Regions from separate parts of the Homo sapiens genome. Here region 1 is linked to region 2. Evidence: fine-mapped expression QTL. A gene starts in region 2. The other region holds a variant in brackets. All regions are shown on one strand. Distances are from middle to middle. Region 1 overlaps KIDINS220 (kinase D interacting substrate 220). Region 2 holds the start of KIDINS220 (kinase D interacting substrate 220).

What was found. PIP is the estimated chance that this variant, and not a neighbour inherited with it, causes the effect.
Region 1: its variant is fine-mapped to the expression of KIDINS220 in whole blood (INTERVAL, PIP above 0.99). The same link has a PIP of 0.9 or more in tibial nerve.

The regions. Positions count from the first base shown.
Region 1 is chr2:8,730,795-8,736,168 of GRCh38, forward strand. It overlaps KIDINS220 (kinase D interacting substrate 220), which reads right to left. Exons shown (of 30, transcript NM_020738.4): 28 at 3,861-3,959; 29 at 2,650-2,886; 30 at 1-1,188. Among named protein-coding and RNA genes, the nearest start is that of ID2, 51 kb to the left of the region's middle. The variant G/C (reference allele first, on the strand shown) is at 3,174.
Region 2 is chr2:8,834,869-8,840,242 of GRCh38, forward strand. It overlaps KIDINS220 (kinase D interacting substrate 220), which reads right to left and starts at 2,745. Exons shown (of 30, transcript NM_020738.4): 1 at 2,612-2,745. RefSeq lists silencers at 2,802-2,861, 2,872-2,921.

The DNA.
Region 1 (5,374 bases), 100 kb before region 2:
TTTGGAGAGCCTTGTGTAACTTGAACGTTGGCTTCGCTTATGTGTCATGCTTTTTAGATTCTCATTCTGAATAGTGGTTGGGTTGGGACTGGAACTAGGCCTCAAAATGACTTGAGAAGTCTCCCTAATTCCCTCCATCTCATCGAAATTTTGATTGGCTCTGTTGGCTGGAGCACTATTGTTGTTCAGAGTCACGGTGCTGGGAGTTCGGTTCAGGTTGTAGGCTTTCTGGCATGCAGGCCAGTTTTCTTCAGGGCTGCTGGCTATCAAGCTGCATTCGGAAGGGCTTTTCTTGTCTTCTGAACAAATGGACATCCGAGCTATAATTGGATCTTGCAGGCCACTCAGGCTATGTGGGATTCCCCGCTTTCCGCTGTGACTGTCATCTTCCAGCTCTATGAGATTTGCCTTTTCAAGCTGGGAGTCATCCGCCACTTCATTGTGCAGAGAGTGATTGGGAGAACTTTCACTGGATCTCACTCCTGAATCCGATGAATCCTTTTTGTCAAGGAGCGCATCCGATAAATACTCTTTGGCTTTAATGAAGGTTCTGATCGGCTCAGCACTGTGTTCTGGAGACTTCGGCACTCTCTCTACTTTCCCTTCGGCTTTTCTGTCTTTGTCATCTTTGAGCAGTGGAGTGTTATCTGATTCTTCTGTGCCAGATTCATCCTCGTCACTTGGGAGTTTTTGATAGCGCAGCCCACTTCCCTTAAGCTTCAAATCTGTCTGGAAGAGGCTTGACCTTTCGGAAGATTTCTTGCCTGGGAGAAGCTTACTGCCTGACTGATCTGATTTTTCATCTTCTTCAGTGATAGGATCCAGGGGGGAAGCATCGTTGGTGGAAACCCCTGATGATGAATAATCGATAACATCTCCCCTCTTCATTAGAAAGGACTTCCTCCCATCATCGGGCTTTGGTTCACTATCCTTCCCCTTTTCTTGCTCTAGGTTTGAATGAATAGAGCCCCCTGATGAACTCTGACCCATGTAATATGTGCTATGTGGAGAAGATCTGCCACTAATGGTTGTAGACCCGGGGCCCCCTTCTAACTGGGACATCTGAGCAATGTATTCTCTATAGGCATCTCTATACTCGGCCTGCACCTTATCAGTAAGCTTTGAAATTTCAATACTGGAATCCTGGGAATTGAGACTCGAAAGACTTGGGGTTCTGCGAGTTTGTGACTGTGAAGACAGAAAAAAAATAATTTAAAAATTCAAATAAGAAGAAAAAAGGCATAAACATCAGCTTAGGAAATATATATGTACACTAACCATTTAAAAAGTCATCAAAACATCAAATTCTTTTAAAAGAATTCTACATAACACAGATTAACAAAAGCTGTGACCTTATAATGCTGTTACTAGAAAGCTTTCTATAAATTTTAATAAAATCAGTTTATTGTTAATATTTAAAAGTATGATTAAACACTGTATTAACAAATAATCTTAGCACTTGTTTCTGGTTTTTATTTCATTTTTAAGAGACAGGATCTTGCTGTGTTGCCCAGGCTAGATTCAAACTACTGGACTCAAGCAATCCTCCCGCCTCAGCCTCCTGAGCAGCTGGGACTATGGGCATGTCCCACATGCTCGGCCACAGCACTTGTTTTTATAACTTCAAACGTTTAGCTTTTATTTAAGGCCAAAGTCAACTTCATTGATAAAATATAAAATGCAATGAGGCCAATAGTTGGGCCTTAGTAAACAGAAAAATAAAGTAGTTTTACAAGTTTATTTCCAATATTAAGTTTTAGAATTAGAATTTGCTTCAGATCCCAGAATAGCTAAGAAACAAGGAGCAAAAAGTACAGATGAGGAAAAAGAAGGAGAAGAATCAAGAAAGTTTAAGAAGGGTCAAGAGCAAAGGCTAAAACAAAAAAGAAGGAGCAAAGTGAATTTGTTGGGGACCTTCTCAAGGAAATAGGACATTTTCTTCCTTCCCCAAGGCGCTGCTCCTCCTCACCGCTGCCCTGCCCTGCCCACTCAGTGTTACTCGCTGCCGCCCGCTGTGCCTCCTCCCCCGTTGTTCTCCACACCCTGCTCTGCTTTTCCTCCTGCGCTCTCCTCACTCCCGCTACTCCTCCTGCATCTCTCACTTTGCTCTGTCCCTGCCCCTACCCCTACCCCTCACCTGGCCTCCTTCTTCTAAGAATCTCCAAAGGAAGAACGCGCCTACATCTAATGCCAGACCAGAAGAAACCAATATCCGTGAAGGGTGTGCAGGCGTCCTGGAAAACCAAAGGATGGTGCTCAAAGGGACACTATGTGGCCAGTGTTCCAATGAAGATGTACTTCAACCAACAGTTACTGAATGCAACAGGAAGATCGCCTGAGAAAGGCTGAATTTGCTGACCACCCTAGCTCAAGTGGCCTAATCCCTATTGACTCTGCATGCTGTGACCCTGATGGATATCTCAGCTCTCATCAATGTCTACATGAGCTACTTTTTTGTTTGTTTCACTGACTGCCCCTCTCCACATGGATGCAGCTCCTTGAGTACAGGGAGCCCTCCATCTTGTCTCCTGTTCACTTAGGTATTCAGTAAGCATTTTCTGAATGACTGTCTAAATGCCCATATAATCTCAGTGAACTGAACGGTGTGCTTATTCTTCAATAATATGAAAAATGCCATTCAATAAATACCTGCCAACTTAGATTACTGTGACGAGGGGCACCTTCATCCAGGCCAAGCGTGTTCAGCTCTTCGAAGCTGAAGTTGAGTGTGTAGGGCGTCTGGCTGGAGAGCTCGGTGTGAGGCAGCTCGTTGTGGGAAGCGCGGCGAGCAGGCTCACCGTGCGGGGCTGGGCCACTGCTGCTCTCACTGAGGAAACGTGGGTCTTCAGGGACCACGTGGCTTTCTGCGTTTCTCATTTCTAGTACCTTAACAGAAGAAAAACATAAATATTTACACTAACAAATCATATTTTAGAAGCTTTAGAAATATTTAGAAATACCAAACATTATAAAGCTATTGCAACAGCAATGAGAAAGCATACTTCTGGTAAGTGAATTTCTAGTGAATTTGTTTTATACATCAGCTTATCTTTCATGTTCATTAATACTAAAGGAAGCAATGGTAGAAACCACCATACATATACTACACTGCAATTTGTCCATTAAATTATTACTTCTGTTTAAAACTTAACTTGAGGACAAAGAAAAATGCA[G/C]CTGGCTTGTGTCAAAACCAGAGCTGGCCAGGAGTAGGGCGGTAGGTCCAGATTTTATTCAGAACTATGGCAACAGGGGTAAGCAGTCTCACTACAGAAGGGAGTCCAACTCGGAATAAGCACGAATGAGTGGGGATCTACCACCAAGGGGCAGGGTGGGGGTCGTGGATGGAACATTACTAAGGGGAGGCAGCAGGAGTGGGGGACTCTTGGTACGCCGATGGCCAGGGTGAGCCGACATCACCTGGGGGTGGGGGGGTTAGTGAGGCGTTTGATCAAATACTGAGGGTGATCACACATGTAAACTGACTTAACAGGATTCTTGCTAAACCTGGGCAATGCAAGCCCTATAAGGATGAATGCTGAAGGTCAAGGCCTCGAAGGCTTTGAGGAGCCTGATGAGAGTTAAGGCAGGTGAAAGCATGAAGAACCGGCAGGCGGCCTCTTCCCCAAATCTCTGAGTGAAATGCCCAAAAAGGCAAAGGCTGCCAAGTGCTGCTGTGTGTATTTTCCACAACACAGGATTGCACATAAGTGTAAGAAGCAGTTTTTAAATTTAAAAAAATATGAAAAAAATACCAGTTTAGGCCAGTACTTATTGATACTGGTTTTCTACAATGTTATAAATAATTTTGAATGTTATCATAAAATAATGTTGTAAACATCACAATGTTACAAATATCTTACTGTGCTTCTGAAAAGGTGCCAGTCTCCAAAATTCATATTCATCTCTTTCTTCAGCTCATCAATGTTACACTGAGCTAACACACGGCCATTTATGTTTGCCTGAGTAAAAATTAAAACAATTATGGGTATAAAGACAGAATGTGAAATATTCTGAATTACTAGTGATTGCCAAGTATGCTTATATTTAGTTTTAAATAAGTCTCTAGAGACCAGAAAGGCTGACCAAAAAAAAGGTTATCATCCCATATAATAATACAATAAACAAGCTGAATTTGAACAACATCAGCCACTTCATATTTTCCCAAATGTCTTAGGCATTTTCTGGGACCAACCGAAGAACTAACCCTCCTATTTCCAAAACTACCTATGCTGTCATGAGCAACAACAAAACTGTTAGTTTTTGTTTTCTAATCTTAGAAAATATGAACATGAACACAAGCTGCTGGGAGGGGACAAAGACATCTGTTCTCATAAGCGTGTTGGTCACTAACAACGTTCTAAATGAAGTAGGCCTGGCAAACTTGTTTATCCGTTATATTAGATACAGATATGAAGAATGCCCACCCACTAATTTTCCAGTCTATTAAATTCACAAGGCCCGGCGCGGTGGCTCACGCATGTAATCCCAGAACTTTGGGAGGCTGAGGTGGGTGGATCACCTAAAGTCAGGAGTTCGAGACCAGCCTGGCCAACATGGTGAAATTCCATCTCTATTAAAACTACAAAAATTAGCTGGGAGTGGTGGCACATGCCTGTAGTCCCAGCTACTTGGGAGGCTGAGGCAGGAGGATCGCTTGCACCCAGGAGGCGGGAGGTTGCAGTGAGCCATGGCCACGCCACTGCACTCCAGCCTGGGTGACATAGCAGGACTCCATCTCAAAGAAAAAAAAAATCATAAAAAAGGAAGTTATTACTTTTGGTTCCCTGTAATTCTAGTTTCCCCTAAATGAAACAACAGCATTTTCTTTATTAATAATAGGTAGCTTACTGCTTTTATAAAATGTAAAACCTGACTTTATTAACTGGGGCAAATTTATGAAATAGCTATGTTTATAATCAATAGAATGTTCAGTTTCCAAGTTAATCCTGAAGAAAACAGTATACACAGCAAGTCTGTGACAGAGGTCCTGCTGCAACAATGCCGCGGAGCCCTAAGCACGGAGGAGGCCAGCGGCTCTGAGGGGCTTCAGAAAGCCGGGGTCTAGGAGCAAAGAGCTGAGTGGGGAGAAAACCACTACCCCGATGGGAACAAAATCATCACAAAGGACTCGTGTGGGAGACCCCGCTCTTTCCTGACACCAACCAGCTGCCTGAAGGAGAAAGTGGGGCTTATCCATGGAAAAGCCGGTGTTTGACTCATGCAAACAGGGACTAGCACGAGCCAGCTCTGTAAGGAAACTGACATTATCTGAAACCTTTCTAAAATTGGCTGAGATGAGTAAAATGGTGTCTACATATGCTCATAATTCTTTAAAAAACTTCTCTCAGATGTCATTCTTTCAAGTATATAAATA
Region 2 (5,374 bases):
TCTGGCTCTATTGCCCAGGATGGAGTGCAGTGGCACATTCATAGCTCACTGCAGACTCAAACTCCTGGACTCAAGCGATCCTCCTGCCTCACCCTCCCTGAATAGCTGGGACTACAGGTGCATGCCAACACACCCAGATCATTGTTTACATTTTTAATTTTTGTAGAGACAGGACTTGCTATATTGCCGAGGCTGCTCTTGAACTCCTAGCCTGAAGTGATCCTCCTGCCTTAGCCTCCCAAAGCACTGAGATTACAGGTGTGAGCCTGCATGCCCAGCCTTGAACTAATTTATTAAGGGCTGTCTCTCTCCTTCATTCTTACATCCCCAGAACCTATTACAGATCTAGAACAGGTAGAAACTTAATAGATAACCATCAAATTAAATAACTGCATAGGTATGCTAAAGATACCTCTTCTGAAGGACTTTGCCCACCCACAGCCCCTGCTACCCTCAACAGCCATGTTCTCTAGCATCAGCCATTCCCAGGGATGGGCATATGATCTGTGGCATGAAACTGTTGAAAAAGATAAGCTGGGCCAATCAGACTTCTCTCTCTAGAACTGGGAATTAGAAACCAGAGACTGGGCCAATCAATATGGGTCACACATAAAATGATACAGTTCTGAGACAGCCAATCAGCAAAGAGAGAATACAACAGATATGAACAGAAAAGAGACTCCTCCTAAGTAAGAGAACAAATGTGGCCCCTAAGAGGAGGTCAGGGCTGCAGTGAGCCAAGATCACACCACCTGCACTCCAGCCTGGGCAACAGAGCCAGACCCTGTCTCAAAAAAAAAAAAAAAAAAAAAAAGTTGCCCCAGGGAGATGTAGAAAATGGAGGTACCTGGGATCCTGACTTCTTTCTGACTCTCATTCAATCCTATTATCTCCTTTTCCTTGAAGTAAAAGGTTTAAGTTTCTACTGTCTTCTAAACAGCCCTGACAAATACAGTAGCACATAAAATGGAGAAACTGACCGTTCTTGAGCAAAAGCAGGAAGAAGGGGATGGCACATTCATACATGATCCTATAAAAATTAATCTGGCAGTGTATGTGACCCAGACTGGAAAAATACAAAGAATCAGGGCCCTAGATACCAGTCAAGGAATCACCAGACAGTACACAAGAGAGGCAGTGGGAATAGAGAAGAAATGAGGGATATTAACTTGAAAAATATAAAATCCCTGACATTTGAACTTTCTGAACTACCAAAATATCCAGAAGAGATATTCTGGATATAAAGATAAAACTATGTGACTGGTTGGAAAAGAAAACAGGTGGAAGATGACCAGATGCCCAGCATAGGTGACTGAAGAATGGAGCTGCCCTTAACCAAAAAAAAAAAAGCAGGAGAAAGAGCAGACTTTTCTCTACTTAAGTTATGCCTCCTCCCTTCCACCACCCCAGCTGGGCGAATGGGGCTTTGGCCAGGCTGAATTTGAAGTGTCCCAAAAGAACTAGGTTGGAGAAACCCACCCAATACTTGGAAAAAGATACCGTTCACACTGTGTGTGAATGATCTGGAAATTATTCACACAAAGGGTGTAGAACAAGGATTCTCAAACTTGTGTGCACCAAAATTATTTGGGAAGCTTGTCAAATACACATATCCCTTGAGCTCCTCCCCGGGAGAATCCCATTCCCTAGATCTGGGGTGGTGCCCAGAAACTGACATTTTAACAAGCACCCCAAAATGATTCTGATGAAAGTAGTCCATGCTAGTAAAGCTAGAAGAGAACAAAGAACACACCTGGCCACGGCATTTCCCAACCTGGGCTCTGCACTCAATACCCCACGGTGGTTTAAAAAGGTGTAGATGTCTGGTCCTCAGTGTTGTCAAAATGTGGACAGGAACGAACCTGAAGGGGTGATTCCCGAGCCACACCTCAGGCCGAAGGAATGGGAATCTCTAAAACGCTAAGAAATCTACATTTTTAACAAGCGCCCATAGGGAGCAGAGATGGCTGCATAGTTATTCATAAAAAAATTTTTCATCGGTTTAAACCTGTCAACTTGAAAGAATAAAAATTCCAACATTACAAAGTGATGAAGAAATTATTTCCCTATAAATAAATCTTGGAGGCGTGGAAATCAATGGCTTGCACTATTTTGCCAGGCGTTTAAAAGCCTGCACAGGACAATGGAGCAATGGAGCCCACGATAAAAGCAAGGGAGAAAACAACACCTCCCGGCCCGTGGAAGCCTAGGAGGAGGAACCTAGAAAGACTAGCGGTACCAGCTAAGGGGGCTCTCAAGGTGGTGGATGTGCCAGAGGCTGCTTGGCAAAAGAAAAAAAACGGTTTTACCAACACCCTTCACCCCAACCCACCCGAGGGGCCCCTCAGGAGACAGACCACCAGAGACTCCAAGGTCGGAGACCTTCCCGGCGCTCCAGGAAACGCGGACTCGCCCCGAAAGCCGGGGCCCGAGCGTCCGGGGCCCGCGCCATGCCCTCCCCGGGACCCCCGGTCCGAGCTCGCCCCTTCCGCGCACTCCTCGGCTGTCCCACCTCCCCGCCCGACTCCCCGAGCCCGGCCTCGCCCCCGACTCCTCCCCAATCCCGCGGCAAAGCTTCGCGGACCGGCCTCCACACTGACGGTCTCCCAACCTGGTCCTCAGCTCCGGCGGAACGGGCCCGCTCGGCTGCAGGCGATGTCAGAGGACGGGGAAGCAAGAGACGGCGACTGCAAGCGCGTCGCCCTCACCACACCCGGCGGCCATATTCTTCCCTCTCCGCGAACTGACAGATCACGTGCCCTGGGTAGGGGAGGGACTCCGGGTTGCCACGCCCCCTGGGCGTGGAGGGGAGGGGCGGGGCGGGGCGTAGAGCAGGCGGGGCTGGAGGGGCCGCGGGGCGGGGACACCCAGGACAAGCGCCCCAGGCAAGGTTTTTCAGTGTCAATGTCACTCTTATTACAGTTAATTTATTATCCCTATTTTCCATTATAATCAAGCTTATTCAGAGAAATAAACATCAATTATATCTTCAGAAGAAACTGCACATACATAAGAAATGAAAGCCCGCTCAGCAGCCTTCTTCCGGATCCAGGAGCGAGACCTCTGCCTTTCGCGGGGCCTGTAGTTCACACTCCTTCCAGGTCTCCCAGCACCTCCCCTCACCTCCTTCAGCCTCCACATTCCTAGGCCTTGCTGCCAACAAGCGTCAATCTTGATTTTTGAAAAGGTCCAAGGATGATTACGACGTGCGTAGGTTGCGAACCATCGAAAAGCACCCACCAATGTGTCAACCTGGCAACTCAGGAAAAAGCCAATAAGGAGCCTGACTTCATCAGAAGTTGGTGCGGGGTGGGGACAATGGCTCACTCCTGTAATCCCAGCATTTTGGGAGGCCAAGACGGAGGATCACTTGAGCTCAGGAGTTTGAAACCAGCCTGGGCAACATGGAGAGACCTCTTCTCTACAAAAAAAAAAAAAAAAAAAAAAAATACAAAAATACAAAACTTAGCCAGGCGTGGTGTTGCACACCTGTAGTCCCAGCCACTTAGGAGACAGAGGTGAGAGGATCACTTGAGCCCAGGAGTTCGAGGCTGCAGTGAGCTGAGATCACACCACTGCACTTCAGCCAGGGCAACAGGGCAAGATCCTATCTCCAAACAAACAAACAAACAAACAAAAACGGAAGTTGGTGTGCCCCTCATGAAACAAGGAGCGAACACCCCAACGTGTACAGTGGAGTCCTAAATGGTGTGATTTCTTCGATAATGACTTGCTAAGGCCAGCCACTGTTGTAAACAGGGCAGGGTGGGTCAGGCGTTGGGGGTTAGAAGTATGGTAGGTGTATTAGCCCGTTTTCACACTGCTATAAAGAACCACCTGAGACAGGGTAATTTATAAAGAAAAGAGGTTTAATTGACTCACAGTTCTGCATGGCTGGAGAAGCCTCAGGAAACTTAAAATCATGGCGGAAAGGGAAGCAAACACGTCCTTCGTCACATGGCTGCAGGAAGAGAGGTGCCCAGCAAAAGGGTCAAAAGCCCCTTTTACATCCAACAGATCTCGTGAGAATTCACTCACTATCACGAGAACAGCACGGGGGAAACCGCTGACGTGATCCAATCACCCCCGACCAAGTCCCTCCCTTGACACGTGGGGATTATGGGGAATACAATTCGAGATGAGATTTGGGTGGGGTCACAGAGCCAAACCATATCAGTAGGATATAAGGATGAAGCCAACCTTAGAGTAGGGGAGAAGACAAGGAAACAGGTTAAATGTGCGTTATTTAGCACAGCCTTTCTGAGTCCTGACCATGTCCTAGGCACAGTGCAGTAAGGAGGTAAGCACAGAGGATGGAGTTACCAACTCTGCTTGGGGTCCACTAGGAAGGTTCACAAAAGAAGGGACCCCCCCCCCCCGCACCTCCAGCTGTATCTGAAGTATAGTTTGTCCATCACATCAGTTGGATGGGGCTAGGAAGAATGTCCAGGTCGGGGAACAACACTTTGGAAAAGAATAGAGATGAGAAGGAGGGTGGCCCAAAGTTCCAGGAACTGTCAATATTTGCCAGCCTTGGGGCTGGGGTGGCAGCATGGGAGGGGGCAGTAGATGGAGCAGGGGTCAGCCTCTGAAGGGCCTTGAGTGTTAAGTACCATTTGGGAATTTGTTCTAGGGAAATAGAAGGCCACTGAAGGGATTAGAAGAGTATCAAATTTGTCCTATGGAAATAGAAGGCTGCCTCCCCCAGCATCCACTACCCTTCCCACCACCCCCCAACCCCATCTTTCCTCAGCCTCCAGCTGTTTCCCTCAATCCCCTCCATCCTCCTCTTATCCTCTCACTGCTTCCTCCACCCTCTGCCCCCACATCCTCCCCCAACTCTCCCCACACCCCTCTTCCTCCCATCCCCCCCTCTGTCCTCCCGTCTTCCTCCAGCCACCCAAGCCTCTCCAATCCTCCCACCACTTCCCCTAGTCCTCCTTCTGTCCTCCCTCATCCTCTTCCCTCCCTCTCTTGGTAGCACAGTTTAGCACTCCCTCCTGGAAATATTTCTTTTTTTTTTTTTTGGAGACAGAGTCTCGTTCTGTTGCCCAGGCTGGAGTGCAGTGGTGCGATCTCAACTCACTGCAAGCTCTACCTCCCGGATTCACGCCATTCTCCTGCCTCAGCCTCCCGAGTAGCTGGGACTACAGGCGCCCGCCACCGCGGTCGGTTAATTTTTTGTATATTTAGTAGAGACGGGGTTTCATCGTGTTAGCCAGGATGGTCTCGATCTCCTGACCTCATGATCCGCCCGCCTCAGCCTCCCAAAGTGCTGGGATTACAGGCGTGAGCCACCGCGCCCGGCCCCCTCCTGGAAATATTTCTTCTCCTGGGCTTCTATCCCATTCTTCTGGCAGCTCCTTCTCAGATT